Homo sapiens: one gene and its partners. The protein of the gene in region 2 purifies or fractionates together with the protein of the main gene of each other region. This does not show direct contact. Each region holds a gene or a part of one and is shown on either strand. Other genes may lie near its edges.

Evidence for each region.
Region 1: the proteins of DECR1 (region 2) and POGLUT3 fractionate together in Homo sapiens (co-fractionation; one large-scale study listed by BioGRID). This does not show direct contact.
Region 3: the proteins of DECR1 (region 2) and DGUOK fractionate together in Homo sapiens (co-fractionation; one large-scale study listed by BioGRID). This does not show direct contact.
Region 4: the proteins of DECR1 (region 2) and HEBP1 fractionate together in Homo sapiens (co-fractionation; one large-scale study listed by BioGRID). This does not show direct contact.

The regions. Positions count from the first base shown.
Region 1 is NC_000011.10:108,471,616-108,474,384, forward strand, and holds the end of POGLUT3 (protein O-glucosyltransferase 3 isoform 1 precursor), read right to left. Parts: 3' UTR 501-2,769; downstream 1-500. UniProt on the Homo sapiens protein: Protein glucosyltransferase that catalyzes the transfer of glucose from UDP-glucose to a serine residue within the consensus sequence peptide C-X-N-T-X-G-S-F-X-C. Can also catalyze the transfer of xylose from UDP-xylose but less efficiently.
Region 2 is NC_000008.11:90,016,453-90,023,230, forward strand, and holds part of DECR1 (2,4-dienoyl-CoA reductase [(3E)-enoyl-CoA-producing], mitochondrial isoform 1 precursor), read left to right. Parts: intron 1-671; coding exon 672-874; intron 875-2,456; coding exon 2,457-2,514; intron 2,515-2,633; coding exon 2,634-2,720; intron 2,721-4,456; coding exon 4,457-4,604; intron 4,605-6,778. UniProt on the Homo sapiens protein: Auxiliary enzyme of beta-oxidation. It participates in the metabolism of unsaturated fatty enoyl-CoA esters having double bonds in both even- and odd-numbered positions in mitochondria.
Region 3 is NC_000002.12:73,942,028-73,948,805, reverse strand, and holds part of DGUOK (deoxyguanosine kinase, mitochondrial isoform a precursor), read right to left. Parts: intron 2,088-6,778; coding exon 1,900-2,087; intron 1-1,899.
Region 4 is NC_000012.12:12,992,528-12,999,305, forward strand, and holds part of HEBP1 (heme-binding protein 1), read right to left. Parts: intron 1-6,778.

The DNA of each region.
Region 1 (2,769 bases), on a different chromosome or scaffold from region 2:
GTAATGATTTTCTCATTTATAATTTTTGCAGAGGTGGTTTCAAGACAGGATCTTGCTCTGTTGTCCAGGCTGGAGTGCAGTGGCATGATCATAGCTCACTGTAATCTCAAACTCCTGGGGTCAAGCAGTCATCCCACCCCAGTCTACCAAGTAGTTGGGACTACAGGTGTTCACCACCATGTCCAGCTAATTTTTAAATTTTTTCTTTTGTAAAGTTGAGGGTCTCACTATGTTGCCAGGGCTAGTCTTAAACTCCTGGGCTCAAGTGATCCTCCTGCCTCGGCCTCCCAAAGTGCTGAGGTGTGAGCCACCGTGACTGGCCTTTTCTTTCTTCTAATGTTATTATAGATTTCTGCCCTTTAGGGACTGAGTGGTGATTTTGGTTCATTTACTCATGAAGACATAATAGAATCAAAATTAGACCAATGCAGTTACAGAAATACCAGGGCTATAAGTGGTTACAACCTCTTTCTTAAAAAACAAAAGGTATCTTTTTCAACTTTTTATTTAGAAAATTTATTTTATTTAAAAGGTATATATATACATAAGTCCCAAGATATAAAGTTCTAAACATAGATTTAAAAAGAGCAAAATGGAAAAAATATAAATATTTGCTGTTCCTGTTTATATCTTTTGTGCATTTATTGTCTTTTCTAAGGTTGGCATTTTTCTTTATTTTGCAATTTGATCCATACTTACAGTAAAAAAAAATCTAAATATTATAGAAAGGTATAAAGCAAAAAGTAAGAATTCCCTTCACTCCATCTTCTCCTCAGATATTGGTGAATCTCCTCCCAAACTTTCAACCACATAGATGCATTTTTGTTTTCAAACCAGAAAGCCATTAACACTAACTCTTTAAAGGCTGCGGCTGAATTGGCGAGATGAAGAATTATGTAGATTAAGGCTGCTGTCTCCCTATAGAATTTTTTGAGGGATTCCACCTTTTTTTAAAGCACATCCTTCCTGTTCCACACACTGAATCTGCCTGGTTTGTCTCAACTTGCTTTTAACTATTAGGCCTGTTTGGCAGAGGCAATATAAATTTTTAAAAATGTAAGATGTTTAAAATGCCATTAGCCTTTAGCACCTGGAATTTGAGGCAGAAAGGTATGAGTTAGGCAACCTTTCTTGCCATAATCCCAGTTTTGACAAGCCTCAAACACAATGTACAATATTTAAGACACAAATTCATTAGGTATGGGCTCAGGACAGCTTGCTCTTATTTAATACTTGCGTGCTTGTGGTTTTGCACAATGGATGGGTATTAGAGTTTGCCTTGGATACTTGGCATTGATTAGACTGTTCTGAAATTTGGTTATGCTTAGTCAAAAAATTCTGTTTATTGTTCTTCAGCAAGAATAGATGTAACCACTTTAAAAATAGTTACATTGTTTTCCAGATTAAGTAAATATTTCAGTTAGGAGAATACATATTTTTATTTTTATTTTCAGTTTTTGAGATGGAGTCTCACTCTGTCACCCAGGCTGGAGTGCAGTGGTGTAATCTCAGCTCACTGCAACCTCTGCCTCCCAGGTTCAAGTGATTCTCCTGCCTCAGCCTCCCGAGTAGCTGGGATTACAGGCAAATGCCACCATGCCTGGCTAATTTTTGTATTTTTAGTAGAGACGGGGTTTCACCATGTTGGCCAGGCTGGTCTCAAACTCCTGACCTCAAAAGATCCGCCCATCTCGGCCTGCCAAAGTGCTGGGATTACAGGCGTGAGCCACTGCAACCGGCCAGAGTACATATTTTAAAATTTGGAATGAGGATAGCTCTTGTTTTAGAACATGCACTTTAGTGAACTGAACCTTGGACTGATGGTTACAAGGAGTATGTAATGAGCTTTCAGGCTATGAGTCCTAAATCCTGACCCTGTCCTAAAAGAGAAAGGAAATTTCCAAAGTCTTCATCGTAGCAACGACACCCACTGAAATAGAAAAGTGGTGGAGTGAGGAATGGATGCTTGCCTTTGTTCTTGGCCTATTATTAGTGAATCCCAAGATAGCAGGCTTCCTGAAGATTGTTGTAGAGGTTTTCAGTGTTTTCAAGGATCCCCTTTTCAGCTTAAAAATAATGAATGCCTTTCACCTGACTACAGTTATCTTTCACCTATTCAATATAGAGATAATGAATGATGCCTATAGCATACCTTCATCTATGTTAATAACTGTATTGTCTTTGATGGGTATACAACTCAGATAGATTTGGAATTACTAACTTAAGGTACAATTTCTCCTTAATGTTGTCTCGGGCTTTGGCAAAATTTAGTTTAAAGGATATGAGTAGTGCTTTAAAAAATATTCCCTCCACAGTCTCCATGCCACCTTTAATAACAGAGTCATTCTCTTCTTCCTTAAATATCCTTATCAGACCTTCTAAAAGGAAGCTGTTATTAATGAAAGCCAAAAGCAGCTTGTAAGAGGAGAAATTATGCAGTGACGGGGGGCGGGGGGACAACCCTGAACAAATATTTTCTCTTCATAATTGGAAGTGGAAGAGAAAAAGTGAACAGGGGATAGAAATAAACCAATAAAATATGTAAACCAATAAATATGTAAACAGTTTTGCAGAGGCTGATTTATATTTTAGCAAGTCTCTCTATCGGCTATGATCCCCAAGTTTTCTTTTTAGAGAAACTATGATGCTGATAATAGCAGTTTTTACGCAAAAGATATTAATATTCAATGATATTTGGTAATGCTTGTTCAAATACAGGTTGAACATTCCTCATACAAAAATCTAAAATCTGAAATACCCCAAAATCCA
Region 2 (6,778 bases):
GGTGAAACCCTGTCTGTACTAAAAATACAAAAATTTAACGGCGTGGTGGTGTGTGCCTGTAATCCCAGCTACTCTACTCGGGAGGCTGAGGCAGGAGAATCGCTTGAACCTGGGAGGCGGAGGTTGCAGTCAGCCAAGATCATGCCACTGCACTCCAGCCTGGCTACAGAGCGAGACTCCATCTCAAAAAAACAAACAAACAAAACAAAACAAAACAAAACCAAAAACCAAAACAAAACACAACAATTTAATTTAAGCAAAACACCTGCAGCTAATAATGGTAGCATTTGTAGTGCTTACTATGTGCTACACACTGCTCTAGGTGCTTTACCTGTAATAACTCATATAATCCTCACAATGCCATATGAAGAAATTTATTTTATTGTCCCCATTTTGTAGATGAAGGAACTGAGGCACAGAGAGGTCAAATAACCTGCTGAAAGTTACATAGCTTGGGAGAAAATTCTGTGCTATGTAGTCCAGCTCCAGAGCCTGTGCTTTTTAAATCAGAAAACAAAGAATAATAATTAAGTACAATACCAATATGTTTGCAGTGAGTTTGTGTTAATACAAGAATTTGATTACTATTAAATTCAAGAGCATGTTTTAAAAAATTCATCTGTTTTTTGGAAATATATGTATGCAAATTTAAATTCATTTTCCCCTTTTAGTTTTTCAGTTATGGGACAAAAATATTATATCAAAACACTGAAGCTTTGCAATCTAAATTCTTTTCACCTCTTCAAAAAGCGATGCTACCACCTAATAGTTTTCAAGGAAAAGTGGCATTCATTACTGGGGGAGGTACTGGCCTTGGTAAAGGAATGACAACTCTTCTGTCCAGCCTAGGTGCTCAGTGCGTGATAGCCAGCCGGTAAGTCCCTTACATCAAGCCTATTGGCGACGCTTTTGAAGAAACTGTTCTGTGCCATAGTATTGAAAACACTGTTCGCCAGAGTTGTTTGATTAGCATCTTAATCTTATATGAAATACTAGAAATATTATTTAGATTATTTAAATACATCTTTTTGGAAAAAGTTAGGTACTATTTGAGATGAAAGAAACAATGAAAATTGTGGAACTGATGTTTGGGTAAACATCCGCAATTTTCATTATTTTAATTTCTCCAATTCAGTGGTAGAATATTTCTTTTTCTGTACACGAAGATGAAGTTAAAAAGTACGACATGGAGCCAGGTGGGATGGTGTGTGCCTGTAATCCCAGCTACTGGGAAGCTGAGGCAGGAAGATCACTTGAAGCCCAGAATTTGAGACCAGCTGGGCAACATAGTGAGACCTTGTCTCAAAAGAAACATTTTTTTTTTAAGCACTATATGGAGGTTGCTTTGTCTTCAGTGGGAGTGATTATGGTTACTGCTTTAATTAATAATTAACCTTATACCAGGAAAATTGATGCAGTACTTTCATTTTATTTTTTATTTTTTGTGAGGTGGAGTTTTGTCCAGCTCTTGTCGCCCAGGCTGGAGTGCAGTGGCATGATCTCAGCTCACTGCAACCTCCGCCTCCCGGGTTCAAGCAGTTCTCCTGCCTCGGCCTTCCGAGTAGCTGGGATTACAGGCGCCTGCCACCACACCTGGCTAATTTTTTGTATTTTTAGTAGAGACTGGGTTTTGCCATATTGGCCAGGCTGGTCTTGAACTCCTGACCTCAGGTGATCCACCCGCCTTGGCCTCCCAAAGTGCTGGGATTACAGGCGTGAGCCACCGCGCCCAGCCAGTACTTTCATTTTCTATAAAATAAACAGGTATTTCAAAATATCTGTTATTGTGATGAATATAGGAAGGGTAAGACCATGTGGAAGGAATTTCTTCTTATTAGGCATATTCTGGTACCCTGTAAACTCTGTTCCAAAGTCTGAGGCTTTAGAGACTGGTTTAAAAATCCACCCCTTCACCATTTTGAATGGTGTAAAATTTTAGGTAAGCCAAGTAGTCATCCAAACAACAGTTACTGTGTCATTTGCAATTGCAGATTGTCCGGAATATTTTTTGTTTTTACATTGTAATGTTTTTAAGAGTTTAAATATATTATTTTCATTTTAATAATAATTTCTATTCATAGTTTTTTTTGTAGAATGTGAGACTGCATGAATAAATGTAGTCTCTTTGAACCCATAAATTTAGTACAAAACCTACTAACATTATACCATGAATATATTTTCTTTGTAAACCTGGCTTATCAAGGAAATAATTTAAATCTGTGAGTAGATAATGTTAAAGTAAACTGGTTTAAAAGTGACTAATTCAATAAGTTAGTATCAAATATATAAAAATGATCTAAATTTGACTTTTAGAAAAAATTCACATTGATTTTTGTATATAAATAACATCTATACTTTCTCAGAAATGCTTTTCTTTAAGCTATGGATTCTCTGTATTCTTCAATTTATGAAATTGAAAAATATAATATGAAGTCATACAAGGTGTTTATTTCTAGGAAGATGGATGTTTTGAAAGCTACCGCAGAACAAATTTCTTCTCAAACTGGAAATAAGGTACATTAAAAATCAGTTATTTAATTTAGATTTAGGAATTATAACATGTTCAAATAATTTGTTCATGCGTTTGGTTTAAGAAAGCTGGAAAATGTCATATTCTTTTTGTTATTTTGCAGGTTCATGCAATTCAGTGTGATGTGAGGGATCCTGATATGGTTCAAAACACTGTGTCAGAACTGATCAAAGTTGCAGGACATCCTAATGTAAGTGTAGCAATGATGAAGCCAAAGTGCAAGACACTTGATGTTGATAACACCCACCAACATGTACAAAGGAAATAAAATATTGATACTGATGTAGGACAGGCAAGCCCGAATCTGGGGCTTAGCCTGGGAAGGTTCTTGGCTTCACCCAGGAAAGAATTCAAGGATGAGCCGGTGGTAGAAGAGAACAGCTTTATTGAAGCAGCAGCAGTGGAATGGATCTGTGACTGTTCCTTCAGAGCAGGGCAACACCATAGTCAATGTGCTGGGCATAGCAGTTGAGAGGCAGTTTTATAGTCGTATTTATACCCACTTTTAATTGCCTGCAAATTAATTAGGTTTATGCAGAAATTTCTAGAAAAGGGTTGGTAACTTCTGAGTTATCAGTTCGTTGCCATGGAAAGGGCAGTAACTTGCTGACATTGCCATGGCAATGGTAAACAAACATGGTGCATTGGTGGGTATGTCTAAAGAGGGGGTGCTTTCATCCAGGACCTGGTTTAACTAGTCCTCATTCTGGTCCTGTGATGGAACTCTGCCTCCAGAGTTAGGCCTCCTCCTACCTCAATATGAGCAAGTGCTGTGTTGAGAAGCACCTATTTTCCATCCCTAGGAAAATGCCAGTTCTGCTAAAGCAAAGAACAGAGTAGGAAGACTGCTACACAACTTCCTTTCAGGAATACTTAAAGAATCCATTTATGATTGATCAGAAAACAAACTTGATTTCACTTTATTTAATAAGATTATGAAATAACAAGAGCAGTTATCCAAGAGTACAGCATTGAGTTTAAATGATTGATGCTTTTTGCTTCTCCTAGTAACTTTTGATTGTCTTCCTCAGTGGAGGAGAACGATATAAACATGAAAAACTATAAGAAATTCAAAATTTCTCCTTTTAAGACCTGAAATATGCATGAATATTTTGCTGTTGCTTGGTACATTTATCGGAGAGAAGCCGTTTCTTCCAGTAGTCTCAAAGATAGCACTTTTCTATGTTAAAGGTATTTTCAGAACCAGTAACACTGAATCTCCTGTAGAACTAGCCAGAATCTTTACTGATGGTAAATAGATCATCAACCACAAGCTGCATTGGTTAAGTTAAACTAAAATGACACCAGAAACAAAAAGCCATTTCTTGAGATTCTTTGAAATAAAATGCAGTCACATGGTAAATATGTTTAATCTGTATTAATTTTCTTTTTTTTAACTTTTAAAATTTTATTCATTTATTTTGAGACAGAGTCTTGCTCTGTCACTCAGGTTGGAGTGCAAGTGGCACAATCACGGCTCAGTGGAGCCTTGACCTCCTGGGTTCAAGCGATACTCCCACCTCAGCCTCCCAAGTAGCTGGGAATACAGGCACGTGCCACCACACCCAGCTAATTTTTAAAACAAAATTTTTGTAGAGATGACGTCTCGCTTTGTTGCCCAGCCTGGTCTTGAACTCATCCCAAAGTGCTGGGATTACAGGCATGAGCCACTGCACTCAGCCTTAGTTTTCTTAATAAGAGAATCTACCCTAATTTAAAGACGGCTTAGGATTCTGAAATTTGGTAACTAACGTAGGAGGTTTTCACAGACTCAGACTACCAAATCTCATGGTATTGTTTCGTAGGTAGCTGTGGACTTCAACTTTATTGTATTATTTCTATTAATACATTTCAGAAAAAAAACCCTGCAGGGAAAATGTTTTTCCTCATCTAAAGTTTCTGTAACTTGCCTTGTTCATTTATTAGATTGTGATAAACAATGCAGCAGGGAATTTTATTTCTCCTACTGAAAGACTTTCTCCTAATGCTTGGAAAACCATAACTGACATAGTTCTAAATGGCACAGCCTTCGTGACACTAGAAATTGGAAAACAACTAATTAAAGCACAGAAAGGTATGTTTATTTGCTTTTCTCATATTTATTTGGCTTCTGTGTGTGCAAGGTTCTGTGGTAAGCTCTGTGATACTTTAAAAGTCAATGAGACAGTCTACACTTGTACAACTCACAGTGTAATGGAGAAAAATGATATTTAAATAATTATCATATGTTACAATTTGAGCAGTAATAAATATATGTTTCAAGTGCATTGGCAATCCAGAGACAGGAATGACTAACTCTCCCTAGGGTCAGTGATCAGGTTGAGGAACAAGATGCAACTTAAGCTGAAAGTTCAAAGATCTAGATGTGGAGAAAGAGGAGGGAAAGGACATGTGAATGTCAATGGATAGAGGCCTGGTGGAGAGGAGGACATAAGTACATAGGGAATGATGAAAACTTTGATGTCATTAGAGATGGGGAAAGGAATAGGAAATGATTTTGGGAAGGTGGGTTGGAGTGTAATTGGGAGAGTTCTCAATACCAAAATAAGGAGTTTAATGTTAATTCTGAAAGAAATAGGAAGTATTTTTGTATAGATTTCCATTGAAGGTGGAACAAAGAATGCGACTTGATTGGAAAGGTTAGTGACAACAAGATGGATGATAAAAGGAGTGCCATTCAGGAGGATTTGATTTTTCTTTTAGCAGGTGGCTAGATTGCATGGGAGATAAAGTAGAAGACATTTAGAAGACAATAAGATCAACAGGCCTTATTGATTTGATGAGAGTATTTTTAGATGGGATGAAGAGTCTGGATGATAATACCAATGAGATTAAGAACACTGGAGGGAAAATAGATTTAGAAAGAACTTACTAGGAGAACATTTTTGTTAGTATTATGAATGAATTACTTTATAAAAGTTCATATGTACATGGATAGCAAACATGTCTAATGTATATATGTGTGTATATTCATATATATCTAGAACCAGCGTACATTTATTCACCTGACAGACACTTACTAATGACTTTTGGGTAGCAGGCCCTATACTCATGCTCAAAGCACAGAGGTGGACAAGACCCTGTCCCTGAATAATTTGGGGAACTTGAAGGGTGCGGGTATTTTCTCAGAGAAGGTGGAGAGTATTTTAAACAAGGAAAATGAGGAAGCGTTCTCATGCTCCTCAGAGGATGTCCTTTGAGGGTTGAGGGGAGGAAAGAGGGCATGGAGCTGGCTAGGTTCCTCCCTCTGTTCAGAAACCTTTGCCTTATAAGGTTCAATTTCTTCTTTTGTGCAGCGCAGGTGATCCTAGAACCAGCTTGAGATACGCTGTAGGAACAGAGAGATGCTACAGAGGCACTAGCTCTGTGTGTGTGTGTGTCTGCTCACATACATACACTAATAGCTTCCATCCTTTCTATGCACTCATTGAAATTGAAATTCCTGGTTACTCATTTCCATGATGGCAGAATGGATGTGATTTATAATTGGATTTTGGATAAGTGTTTTATTTGATGTTTTTTTTTTCAGTGAGGGGCAGGAAGATGGATAAGAGTGGGAAGGGGGGACAGGGAAGAGTGTGACTCCTCTCTCTTCCCTTCTCTGTCCGAGGAACCTTGATCTCTGTATCTCTCCTGTGTCTCTGCCTCTGTCTGATTTTCTCTCGCCCTACCCCTTGCTGATATCTCCATTTCATTCTCTACTGCTCTGCCTCTGTCAGCTCCTCATTTTTGGTTCTCTGTTTCTCTCTTCATCTGTCTCTTTCGTTTCTTTGTCCTTCTTTGCCTCTTTGTCTCTTATTTCTTCCCTCGCTCATCTCTGTGACCCTCAATTTCTGTCTGACTCTCCCTTCTTCCCTCATTATTGTCTTTCATTTTAACATAGACTCTGATCTATTTTTGTTCATCACATTGGATTAAAATTCTATGAGCTTCATTAAAAATATATTAGATAAAATATCTTTTTAAAAGATGGAAGCCAGTTTTTATTCTTCCAAGATTCCTGTCAGTTATTGATGCTATAAGCTGACAGAGTTTGGAGAACTTGGACCACTCAGCTGAGGGGAGTACGCGGTAAAGGATTTGTTCTGGTACTGGATCGACAGTCAAGGAACTGAAGCGTGACATTTTTAACAATATCATGTCTTCCAGTCTCTCAATGTGGTATCTCTCACCATTTATTTAGGTCTTCTTTAATTCCTATCAGCAGTGTTTTGCATGGGCATTGTACATGTTTTGTTAACTTTCTCC
Region 3 (6,778 bases), on a different chromosome or scaffold from region 2:
ACTGCAGACTGAATGCAGGGGCTGCAGGACAGAACAGGGCATAAGGATCTAGGAGTCAGGGCCTCTGCTCTAAAACCATATGCTAATGTTTCCTTTAACTCAAACAGAAAAGACTAAGATTTCTTCCTCGCTATAATCAACTCTCCCAGATAACCTGTGTTCCTCCTTTGGAACAAATATCACACACGTGAGCATGTGTTCAGTCCCTGTTAGGCAGGGACTGGGTCTGCCTTATTCACTGCTGCAGCCCCAGGGCCAGCCTTGGTGCTTCAACACAGGAGGCATCCAATAAATCTGTGCAAGTGAACAAAGTCTAAATTACCCTCGGGATTAGAACTTGTGATTAGTTTTCCTTTCTGTCTCGAAAATGCCCTCACTGAAGATAGCACCTGGAATGTTGTATGCCCACAGTGTAATCAATTATTACCTCTTCCTTTACAAGCAAAGGTTAAGATCCATGCAGCTTCTTAATGCATTTCTAATTAACAAAGTGTTTCTACTTCTCTATTTTCCTCTGAGGGTCTCACACACCTACTTCATGAAGCGGCTAGAAATAAAGACTGACTATGTTTCCAAACAACCCATGTGGTTATATGTAATTCAACTTCGGAGTCCGAGAGGCATGGCTTGGGAGAGAAGAGAGGAAAACAGGCAGGTGGGATATCCAACAGCTGAAAAAGAAGTAAAACCTATAGCCCAGCCATTTGTAATTCACATATTTAGCTTTTATAAAAAGTAGGCTCTCTCGGGGTACGTACACAAGGAACGGATAGCCTATAGGGTTTGTTTTACATATCTTCCATGATTTTAGGGTAAAGTCAGAAAAATCACTTGTCATTTACAAATGTATCCTTATTTTTTTTCTTCTAGGAGGCTTTCCGGAAGCACTAAGAAATAGAACTAGTTTGTCTAATTTGGAATTAAAAGAGTAACCAACTGAGTGTCTTCAGCAGTGACAATGAAAATGTACCACTTCCCATTTTGATAATTCAAAGAGCCTTAAGAAAGATCGTTTTGCTTGAAAGCACTATTTCACACTGACACTGGTCATTCATAGGCTTCAGATAAGAAAAACTCCAGCAGTGTCCAGATCAAGCCATCCTGACTTTGTCTCTAGGCGGCTTAACCTCAAGTCACAGCCTGGTCTCTGCAGCAGAGCCAGGCATTCCGGAGCCTGCACGGCCTAGCTCTTCTGGAGCAGATGGGCTCACTTCCCAGGGTGCTGCTAGCTTGCATTCAAAGTGACTTCACATCTCACTCCCTCAGGTGGTCAGGATGATGCCCATCCCTGATCTGACACAGGCACTGATGTCCACTAGACTCTGGCCAGCAAAAAGCCCTCTCACAGAAGAAGGGGTCAAAAAGGGCTAAATCTGAGACAGAAGCCAGTTTCTCAGATGTGCTATTTCTGCCTAAGCATCCTTTCTTGAACAATAAAAAAAAAAGGCTGAAAATATCTCTTATATCATTTTCAGGAACACAAATTTTAATTTCGTCTGCTTTTTTCTTAAAGGGGATAATCAACCACTGAATCATCTGATTTCTTAGAATATACACTGCTACTTAAGTGTCTATTATGTGCCTTTTAGCATGTGATGGTTACATTAGGTGGCTACCAGCTTGCTCCATGCCAGAAAATAAGGAAACATAAGGTAATCAGTAGCAATGTAAGAAATTCAAAGCATTCAGTTGATGAAAAACCCAATTTCCTTTCTTGACATAGATGACAATCTGGTAGAAGTACAACTCTGGACAAATCTGTATAGTGTTGTCTTTAAAAAAGAAGATAATTTTTCAAATTATAATCATCAGTGACCATAGCAGTGCAGGATCTGTGCAAGATCAAACAGGCAGCACTGAGCATGGGGCTTGTGACTGGTGGAGGGCTTGGCATTTTACCTGTCACTGTACACAGACCTCTCAAAGATCTGTACTGGCTTCCTGGCCTGTAAGAGTTTCTCAGGGAAGGGCTCCAGCTGTACTTTCAGGCGGCTCAAAAAGGAAAATGTCTGGAATGTGTAGGACCATCGTGCTGGCTCCCGGTACATCATATCCAGCAAGTTTCCAAGACTTTGGGCAGTGCAGGCCTAGAGGGAGATGAAAAAAAGAAGAAAATTTCCTAGAAAGCATATTTACTCCATGGGGTACACCCCTCCACACACACCCCTACCTCCCCAAACAGGTTTAATAATCAATGAAAGAAGAAATTACAAAAGTTTCCTTCCACCAAAAAGGTAGAATCAGATCCCCAGCTTAGTCAAAATTTCATAATCAGGTATGAGATTTTCCTACCTATTAAATAAGACTCTCTAAAGGGAGATGACATGCCACTTCAATATAACAAAAGCAGAGGAAGAACCATATATAGAATTAACACGATCACTGATTGAGGGATTTGTGAAGTCTGTCTGGGGAGGAGTTAACAGTCAACAACCATCTAAAATTTAACTCTGAATCAAATCTTTCCACTATAACACTATGTTGCCTCTCTTTTGAGCTTCCATCTGTAGTTATGTTTATAAAATGTCAAGGCAAACCAGAAAGCAACTGCTTATTTGAAAATCCAACCAATCAACCACCAAATAGAATTTTATCTTTCATATAAGGAGTACAATTTGTTTGTTAAAACAAAACCCTACTTAATTCTAGAGACTTTATGAAACATAATTAAAACGTTCCACTTACTCGGCATGTGCAAGTGGGCACAAGTGTGGGATGTTCAGCAGCCCCGGATTTTTTTTTTTTTTTTTTGAGACAGAGTCTCACTCTGCCACCCAGGCTGGAGTGCAGTGGCACGATCTCAGCTCACTGCAACCTCCCGGCTCACTGCAACCTCCGCCCTCCTCCCCACCCCAGCCGAGTTCAAGTGATTCTCCTGCCTCAGCCTCCTGAGTGGCTGGGATCACAGGCACCCGCCACCACGACAAGCTAATTTTTGTATTTTTAGTAGAGACAGGGTTTCACCATGTTGGCCAGGCTGGTCTCGAACTCCTGTCCTCCCAAAGTGCTGGAATTACAGGCGTGAGCCACCACGCCCAGCCCCAGATTCTTTTCTGGATCTGCCATTGACTCAACAATGCAAAAGTGAATTTTGTACAAAAGCACTTTGGATCTGTATTTTTTATTCAATCACCAATCACTGAAGGCCTGTGTGGATGAGGCGCTACATGGGCAGGGTACCGTAAGGGTATAGAAAAAGGAATTAACATTTATTTCAACCTTTACTGTGGTATGTTACCTCAATTAATCTTCAAAACAGCTTCATGAGGTAGGTACTGTTGTAATGCCCATTTTCCAGAGGGGAAAATCCACTCAGAGGTTAAGTAACTTACTTGTGCAAGGTTTCATGGCGAGTAAATGTTGAAGGGACTCAAACCTGGCTTCCTCTAACCTCATCATTCCAACACCCTCCATCTAAAGGTGAACAAGACAGTTCCTGAACTCAAAGAGCTCACAGTGCAAAAAGGAAGAGGGTGATGAGGATGTACGAAGCTGGAATGTAAGGCAGAACATGTGATGAAGGGACGATTACTGATGGTGGAAGGAATCTCAGGGAGTTTCTGAAAGAAAGTGGCATTAAGCTGGGAAGTAACTGATGAGTAGAATTCTCACAGATGGAAATGGAGATTAAGAAGATTGTACTTCAGGTAGAGACAACAGGACAGAAGGAGAAAAAAGATTCAACAACAGTAAGAAGTCCAATTTGGCAAAATAGCACTATTAGATTCCAAAGAAGGGTCTTAGCCCTTTGAAAGGCTTCAGCAGAAACAACACATATAGAGCAGAGTGGACCAGAAAAGCATTTAACTCAGAGGTATTTTCGGGATTTCCCTCCTTCTGACCCCGCAAGCCCACACATACCAGCCTCACACGTGGCCCCTGACTAAGAGCTGGAGGTAGAAGTAGGAGGACAAATTTGTGTCTCCTGTAGTCTCTGTGGTGTCACTAGAGATGGTTGGGAGCAGCCCTGGGCCTGTTGCACAATTCACACACTGTATGTGGAGCGGAGTGCTGTGCTGGCAGATGCAATAGGTTGACTGGTGGGTTCTATTGCACCAGTGGGCTTTGGGCTATCAAAGAGAGACTCTTCTGGAACCAAAAATGTAAAAGAAACCAACACAATTTCTGAAAGAACCCATCTCAGCTACAGAACAAATGCAAACATCCTTCCAAAAATATAAGCAAACAGATGAACAATAATTGGACACAAAAATACTTAGCAATTCAAAAGGAGAGGACTAGTCTCTGTGCTCAGACAGGGCTGTTGTCAGAAACAGGAGAAAACAAAAGATACGGCCTTGCTGATAAAACAAGAATAAGCTATCATAAAAAAGGAACAATAAGAAAATAACTTTCTTAGAGGTGAAAAATGCAATTGCCCAAGTAAAACACCCAATGAAGATAATGAAGATGGTAGCTAGCAGACTGTATAATGCAGTAAACCTAATTAGTGAATTAGAAGATCCTTACAGAGTATCAGTTTAAGGGCTAGGTATGGGGGCTCACACCTATAACCCAAGCACTTTGGGAGGCCAAGGCAGGAGGATTGCTTGAGGCCAAGAGTTCAAGACTAACTTGGGCAACATAGTGAGACTCTGTCTCCACAAAAAAATTTAAAAGTTACCTGGGCATAGTGGTGCATGCCTGTAGTCCCAGCTACTCTGGTGGCTGAGGTGGGAGGATTTGCTTGAACCCAGGAGTTCAGTGCTACAGTGAGCTATACACTTGATCTTAGCCAAAAGGCTGAGAAGCAATGCTGCAGTGAGCTATAATAGGGCCACTGCATTCCAGCCTGGGTGACAGAGTGAGACTCTTTAAAGAAAAAGAAAAGAGTATCAGCTTAAGAAATTCTCCCTAGGGGCTGGACATGGTGGCTCATGCCTGTAATCCCGGCACTTTGGGAGGCCAAAGTGGGTGAATCGCCTGAGGTTAGGAATTCGAGACCAGTCTGGCCAACATGGTGAAAGCCTGTCTCTACTAAAAATACAAAATTAGCCGGGCATGGTGGTATGCCTGTAATCCCAACTACTTGGGAGGCTGAGGCAGGAGAATCGCTTGAACCTGGGAGGCGGAGGTTACAATGAGCTGAGATCGTGCCATTGCACTCTGGCCTGGGCAACAGGAGCAAAACTCCATCTTAAAAAAAAAAAAAAACCTGAATAACTGAGGCAGAAAACAGTTGTCCAATAATGATTCCCCTCAAACAGTACTGAATCCATATAATCTTAAAGATGATTTCTATCATACCTTCAAGGAATAGATCATTTCTATGCTAGAAAAGATGCAAAATTTCTCCATTTATTTTCATAACATTGATGGTAAAACCTGTCACAAACTACACATGGGCCAGGCATCACAGCTCACATCTGTGGTCCCAACACCTTGGGAGTCCGAGGTGGAAGGGTCGCTTGAGCCCAGGAGTTCGAGACCAGCCTGGGCAGCAAAGTGAGACCCTATCTCTACAAAAAAAAAAAAAAAAAAATTTTTAAGTAGATGGGGACAGTGGTATGCACCTATAGTCCCAACTCACCAAGAGACTGAGGTGGGAAGATACCTGAGTCCAGGACTTCAAGGCTGCAGTGAGCTATGATCATGCCACTACACTCCAGCCTGGGTGACAGAGGAAGACCCTGCCTAAAAAGAACCCAAAAGTCAAAACAAACAAAAATCACCATACACACAAATAATAATACCAACCAACTGTATAAATAAATATACATGCAAAATTCCAAACAACACATTACCAAATTAATGGAATAGTACATCATGACCAAAAAAAAGTTCATTCTAGAAATGTGAGGATGGTACCATTATTAAATCTATGACTAATACTAAGAGATTAAAAAGAAAAACCCCTTGTTTATCTCACTAGATGCTAAAGTGGTTTTTGATGGAAATTCAACATTTGATCATGATAAAAACAGTTACTATTCTAGTAACAAAAGGGTACGTGTACCACACGGTCTACTGAAATGAATAATAAACATTAAACTTAACACTGATATATTAGAGGCAGTTTCATTAATGACAGAACAAGATAAGGAAACTACCCTCACTGCTATTAGTTTATATTGCTCTGGAAGTTCTACCCAATGAAAGAAAACAAGAAAATAGAAATGTGGCACAGATATTAGAAAACTCTTTCAAATGATTACTATTTAGAGACAACTATTATTTTCCAAAACTTCAAGCAAATAAAAAAATAATGAGAAATTAAATCATATAAGATAAATATAACAATCAACTGTTTTCCATTAAAACAGCAATAACCAGTTTCAGAAGATGATGTGGAAAAAAGATCTCAGTCACAATAAAAACAAAATATATATTCTGCTCAGGAATAAACAAGAATACTACTGGCTAAGTAGATAACCATTTGTGAAAAAACTAAAGTCTTATAACTTGTAAAGCCACATAAAACATAAAACCATAAAAGCAACAAAAAGAAATAGATTATTTTTATACTCCTGGGCTACAATTTTAACATCAAAGGTGCTAACTATGAGGAAAAAGAAGGACAGGTTAGACTACATAAAAACTGAAATGTATTATATTGTAAAAATATATTATATACCAAGATAAAAGAAAAATGACATGGTCGGGCGCAGTGGCTCACGCCTGTAATCTCAGCACTTTGGGAGGCCAATTCAGGTGGATTACCTGAGGTCAGGAGTTCCAGACCAGCCTGGCCAACATGGTGAAACCCCATCTCTACTAAATATTCAATAATTAGCTGGGTGTGGTGGCAGGCACCTGTAATCCCAGCTACTCAGGAGGC
Region 4 (6,778 bases), on a different chromosome or scaffold from region 2:
GTGCCAAGTTTGTACTTAAATCCCCCTTCACATGGGGTAGAGGAAATTGCGCCAGACCAGGAATCATGAGGCAGCAAGTCAGCCTTGACTGTGGGGCACCGTGCTGAATCATTCTGAGGCTGCTGTGAAGCCCTCCATCTGGTGAATCTGACACTTCCAAAGAGCCTTCAGTAGCAAACTGTTAAGTAAACTTAGGGTGTTTTGCTCTTTCTGTTGCTGCAGAGAATTCCAGAACTCCCCTTTCATTTGAGAGCGCACCTACCCTTGGCACTTGTAATGTTTTAAATTCCAGAAACACTATCCTGTGAATCACAGAAGTTCAGAACCTAAAATGGTTTTAAAGTTTACCTAATCTAACTAATTTTATCAAGGAGAAAATGAAGAACCAGAGAGACTAAGTTGCTCAAAGTGATGTAACTACTGAATGGTGAAACTGAAACAAAAATTCCAGTTCCCAAACTCTAGTCTACTCCAGTCTAATACTCGTTGCAAGGTTCTCTAAAGCTATGGGGGGTGAAGTGAGCATTTAAACCTCTGTTTCTTTTCTTTATCCTCCTTTCTTTCCTCTCTCTGTCTTTCTTTTTTTCTTTCGTTTCCCCCTCCCTCCCTCCCTCCCTCCCTTCCTTCCTTCCTTCCTTCCTCTCTCTCTCTCTCTTTCTTTCTCTTTCTTACAGGGTCTCATGGTTGCTCAAGCTGGAGTGCAGTGGTACAATCTTGGCTCACTGTAACTTCAGCCTCCTGGGCTCACGTGATCCTCCCACCTCATCCTCCTAAGTAGCTGGGACTACAGGTGTGTGCCACCATGCCCAGCTAATTTTTTTTGTATTTTGTTTTCTCTGTCTTCTTTTGTAGAGACAGGGTTTCACCACGTTGCCCAAGCTGGTCTCAAACTTCTGAGCTCATGCGATCCACCTATGTCAGCCTTCCAAAGTGTCTTTGCTTTTTTTTTTTTTCTTTTCCTCTCTCTCTCTCTCTCTCTCTCTCTCTCTCTTTCAGATGGGGTCTTGCAATGTTGCCCAGTCTGTAACCTCTCTCTTTAGCCACTGTGTTAGATACTTTGGGCGGACAGTTGTATGCCCATATCAAATTCAGAATAGAGGTATCAGAAGTCATTTTACGCAGTTACTTCTTTTACAAATGGGAAGACCAAAAACAAGATCTCACTGGAGAAAGAGCTAACTGGCTCTTTCCTTTGGTCTTTTTCTTCTTTTATTCATTTAACCAACAACTACTGAGTATCTACCATGTGCTGAACATTGTTACAGGTGCTATAAGGGAAGATGCCAGGAAAACAGAATGTTATCATCTAATGATATTTTTAGGGGGCAAGGAGTGCCAGGGCAGTATGGGAACACAGGAAAGGACCACTTAGGTTAGTTTATGGGGCATGGGTGTATGTGATAACATGTTTGGGGAGGTCAAGCTGACTTTGAGGTGGTCACAGATCACCCAACCGGACGTTCAGTCACTACTTTATTAATTCATGGAATAAACATTGTCGAAAACCTTTGCCAGGTGGTACAGATTTGGAGATTAATATGATAGGGATAATCAGGAGGATGGTGAGGAGTATTACACAAATTATTGTACAATGCAGTAAATGCTCTGATCATTTGGGGAGGATATTCCAGGTAGTGGGTACCATAAGAGTAAACGAGGAGGGGTCAAGAACAGTATGATGACTGTGAGTACAAATATTACAAATAGTTGTGGCTGGAGCAAAGACTGTCAAGCAGGACACAAAAAAGGTGTTCTGGCAGGGGCCAGATCTCAGAAGAACTCAGAGGCTGTTGTGGGAGTTGGATTTTGTAACCATTAGTCCAGTGATGGTGATTTGATAGCAAGCCAGTTCATCTACTCTAAATTAGTTCAACTGACATTTGTGACCTAAACATAGGATTTTGCAAGTATGTCTGGGTCTTGAATGGAGGGTCTCTGCAGCAGAAAAGAGATCTATAAAATGGCACGAGCAACCTGTGCTCTTGGCCTGTTCTCCAGGCACAAAGTCCACAGCAAGGAAAGAAAGGCTGCCAAGAAGGGACTCCAGCTTGACTTGGAGAGCCAAGTCCCCCATGATACACCTATCATCCTTCAAGGCTTGGCTCAACTTCACCACCTCCTCCTCCTGAGTGATCCCTCCTTTCTAGGAACCCCTAAAGTCAGATAACTCTAGAGCTGGAAGGGGTCTCATGTGTCCATCAGTTCATCTCCTCCTGATACAGATGAGCAAACTGTCCATTGGGTAGTTGGGCACACAGGTCTGGAGCTCAGCAGGGGACTGGCATAGAGGCGTAAATTTGGGAGTCATTAGCATAAGGGGAGACTAGAGCTGTGAATGAGGTTGGGATTGTCCAGAGAGCATATATAGGGCACTCTACACCAATCTAACTGTGTTAATTAATCTGCTGCCTAAAGGCATTCATTCATCAAGTTCTTAACCTGCCCTTGATGATGCAGGCACCACTGAGCTTCTACCTACGTTGCCAGCCACACTCACAGCACCTGCTCTGCAGCTTTCTGCTGTTTCCTTTGATGCCATGGTCATTTCCACGCCAGGGCCTCTGTGTCTGCTGCTCCCTCTCCCTGGAGCATTCTCCTCCTGCCTTTGCCTGGTGTCTCCCTATTCATCTAACAGGCTCCAACCTAAAAGTTACTTCCTCAGAGAGGATCCTGACTTAAAATAGGTTCCCTGTGATATTCTTACCCACGCTGTACCTTCATAACACAATACTTATTGTAATTACAATTAAATGATGTGTTAAACTCCCACCTCCACCCACAAGCCCCACAGGGTAAGGACTGTTTCTCTTGTTCACCGCTGTATCTCTCTGTACCTAGATGTACCACGCCTTGCATATTGTAGGCACTCTACAAATATTTGTGAGAAAGGAGATATGCAGAGTAAAACCTAGTTTTACTCTAATGACAAGGAATACAAGAGCCATAATAGATGGGCAGAGAGATGAGGACCTCGTCTAATAGGATCTCCTGGAGAAAAGCTGGGCCACAATGTATTAAACCAGTTCTAGTGCAGGGATCACTTGTTTTCATAGCATCTGTATCCATAACCACTCATTTGAACCACGGGACCACTGTGAAAATTCAGGCTTAAGAGATGGATTTGTAAAACTATTCTAGTTCTCCAGGGAGCTCTATTTAAATGTATTTAACCAGAATTCTCTACTGCTGTAGAGAATAAGGCAGCTAAGTTAATACAGTCTTGATTCTTAAAATTTAACATCTTTAGTGCATTTGCTTGTGACATGGAACACAATAGTAGCCCTCCTTCACCCCATCTCCATTAGTCTATGCTCCCAATCAGTTCCTAGATGGAGATTTTGGCCTGTGGCTACAAAAACCAATTTTCAACATTCAGTGGGAACCTTGGTCAAGTTCAAGTCCCAGACAAAGGTTTAACAAGAATGCCTCTGGCTATGGGATTTGTAAGTCCTTTGAAAGGTCAGTTTTTTTCTTGCCACTTCATGTAGTGGGTATACATGCTAATGTTGGAAACCTGCTTTCTCATTACAAGAAAATACTGATCATAACAATTAACCTAACAGAGTACTTTCTATTTGTCTGGTGTTATTTTAAATGCTTTACGTGGATTCATTCATTCAATTTCTCCAATAACCCTGTGAAGAAGTTAGGGCTTTAATCTTCATTTTCAGATGAAACTGGGGAACAAGAGGTTAAGTAACATGCCCAAACTGCAGCGGGTGAATAGTGGAGCCAGGACTCAAAGCCAGGCTATCAGGTCCTAACCTGTGTGCACAGGCCGGACACAAATCTGATTAAGGATGTCAGTTACTAATATCAGTTCTGCTGTGAGCATCCAAAGGCCCACCCAATCCAACACAGAGAGCTGTCTACCCTCCTCCCTCCCTGAGCAATTAAGAAGGCACCTGATAAGGTCTGCGGCAGCACTGGCCTCCCTGCCAAGTACTTGGAATCAGTCCCCAACATCTGGTGAGCCTGAAGCCCATGCTATGTGGGGAATATGGTATGCCATCATTTGCCCAGGAGAGTGGACAATAGTTTCTGACCCAGGCTGTTTCCAGGATAAAATATAATTTCAGGGAGAGGTTCTCTTCAAAAATAATACCTTTATGTTTGTATATTTAAAAAAAAAAAGGTTTACAAGTATCTATGCATAATTAATTAATTTCACATTGGCATTGTTATTCTCATCTTAGAGTTGAGGAATTCAAGGGCTCACGGGATGTTAAGTAATTTACCCAAACTTTACTGTAAAACTACAGTAAAGCTAACCATTACCATCTCCAACCAAGTACTAACATTGAACAGTTTTATAATTGGTTATCTCATTTGAACTTCAAAACAATCTATTAATATATGAACTATTATTTTCTTCCACAATTAGCTTCAGAGGGGCTAAGTTGGCCTGTGACCACACAGCTAGAAAGAATGAAGCTGAGATGAGCACTGATATAATGCTATTACTATATTTGTAGGGTATGTATACTACTTTACAAAATGTTTTCATGGTTTTAAAGAATTTAATACTTATAGTAACTCTGGAAATAGATGGAAAAGATATTTTTATACTCATTTTATAGCTGTAGAAACAGGTTCATTTGGGTTAAATGATTTGCTTTAGCCTGGTACCAATATCCCATATGGCCCCATATTCCCATCAAACACTGAGAGAAGATGCTTATTAGGGAGTTCTCCTTATCCCAGAGGCCCCAAATTAACGGCAAGTGACACTGTATCAATAAGAGTCAAACAGGAAACAGAAACTACTAGAGTATTTAGAGCAGAAGCACTTCGATGCAAGGGATTGGTTGCACAGATAACAGAGGGGCTGAGATGCCAGCAGGGGACAGAGAGGCAACCTAGAGGTTAGTAAGCACCCTAGGAGACACAGAGGGAGAATTACCTGTTACCTAAGTTCAGATACCTAGGTTACTGGGTAGAAGCTAGAATCATGGTGGCCTGTGTAGCGGAAGCCAAAGCCACAGAGAAGCTCCTAGTAGTATGGATCTGATGGGGTGGAGAAGGAGGAGAAATACTCTGGTTTCTCCCTTTTTATCTCCCAGTAGAGACTCCCACTGAGCAAACGTAGCTGGGCGCCGGCTGACATCTGGCCTGGGAAACAGGCCGAATGGGTCAGCTTCCACTCCACAGGAAGACAGCAGAGCAGGGAATGGGTGAGGAAGGAATCTGAGGGCACAGGCCACGAACCAGCCCAGACCCCTCTCCGCCTGTGTGGGCCATCATCATTAATCCAAAAAGACAAAGTGAGCCCCATTCCATGACAAAAGCAAGAACACATGGATTCTTAAAGTGTTAGAATCACAGGAACCTTCATCAGGGCTGTTAGGAGAAAGGCTGTGGTTCTGAGTAGGGCAACTACTTGATGGGGAGGCCAGTGATGCTGCAGACCTTATCAGGTGCCTTTTTCATTGCCCAGGGAGGCGGATAGACAGCTCTCTGTGTTGGCTTGGGTGGGTCCTTTGGATGCTCACAGCAGGACTGATATTAATAACTGGCATCCTTATTGCATTTGTGTCCAGCCTATGCACAACTATGTCAGTTTCCCTACTCAAAATCACAGCCTCACTCCTAATACTCCCTATTCCTCACTCCCCTGCTTGCTTTTCTTCACAGCACTGATCACTATCTGATCCATGATACATTTTATTTGTTCATTAGCCAATAAAACATAAGTTCCATGAGGGCAGAGAATTTTGCTGGTTTTAATCTTTTATCCCATTGCCTAGAAGAGTGCCTGGCACATAGCACTCAAAAAACAGTTTTTGTCGAATTATTTTTAAATTGGGTGATTTCGCTAAGAATCTGGATGTATGGTTTTCCTTAAGAATTTGGCAACACTGTTTCATATATCACTGCATAGCAACAAGTGGCTGGAACTGCCGTTTAGAGATGGGGACCTGAGTTCACTCTCTGATTTGCCTCAGTCCCCACTATGCCTTATAGCCTAAAACAGCCAGCTTCATCCATTTCCATTACCTGCCTGGTTGCTGCAGGTATTCAAATGTGGGACCTCTGATCAGGGCTAAACTGTTCATTCTACATAGAGCTGGGGAAACGGAGATAAGAACAGGTGAAAGGTCTTTGGTTGTCAAAGAGTTCAGATTAGAGTCTAATTGAGGGCTTTCGTGATATGAAGATCATTGTACTAGGTATCAGAACTTGGCCCCCAGGCAATACAGTCCTTTCACAAATGAGGCATCGTATTGGGAGCTCTGTATACAGCTGCACTGTTTAAACTACCTGTCCACCAGGAGATTATAATCTAGCAGCACTCTCCTTGTTTTCAGGGGTGCAGTCCAGTTAGCCCATGTTAGCACTGATATAAATTTGGGGGAAGACAGCAATTATGCTCTTCTCACTCATTCTGTATTCTAGGTACCCAACTCCAGAGGATCTAACTGGCCAAAAGCAATGGTACAGCTCTGGGCCTTTGTGCATGCTCTTCTCTGTTGTGTGCACTCCTACACATCCCTGAGGCCCCAGCTCAGGACACTCCACTGAGGTCCCCATCATAGCCCCCTGGCAGAATTGACTGCCTCTGTGCTCCCTGCGTAGCGCATTTATATCTATTCTGCACAGATCTTGTTCTTTTACACAGTAGTCCCCCTTATCTATAGTAGATACCTTCCAAGCCCCCCAGTGGATACCTGAAACGGTGGACAAAACTGAACCCTGTATCTACTACGTTTTTTCCTATACATACATACCTATGATATAGTTTAACTTTATCAATTAGGCACAGTAAGAGATGAACAAC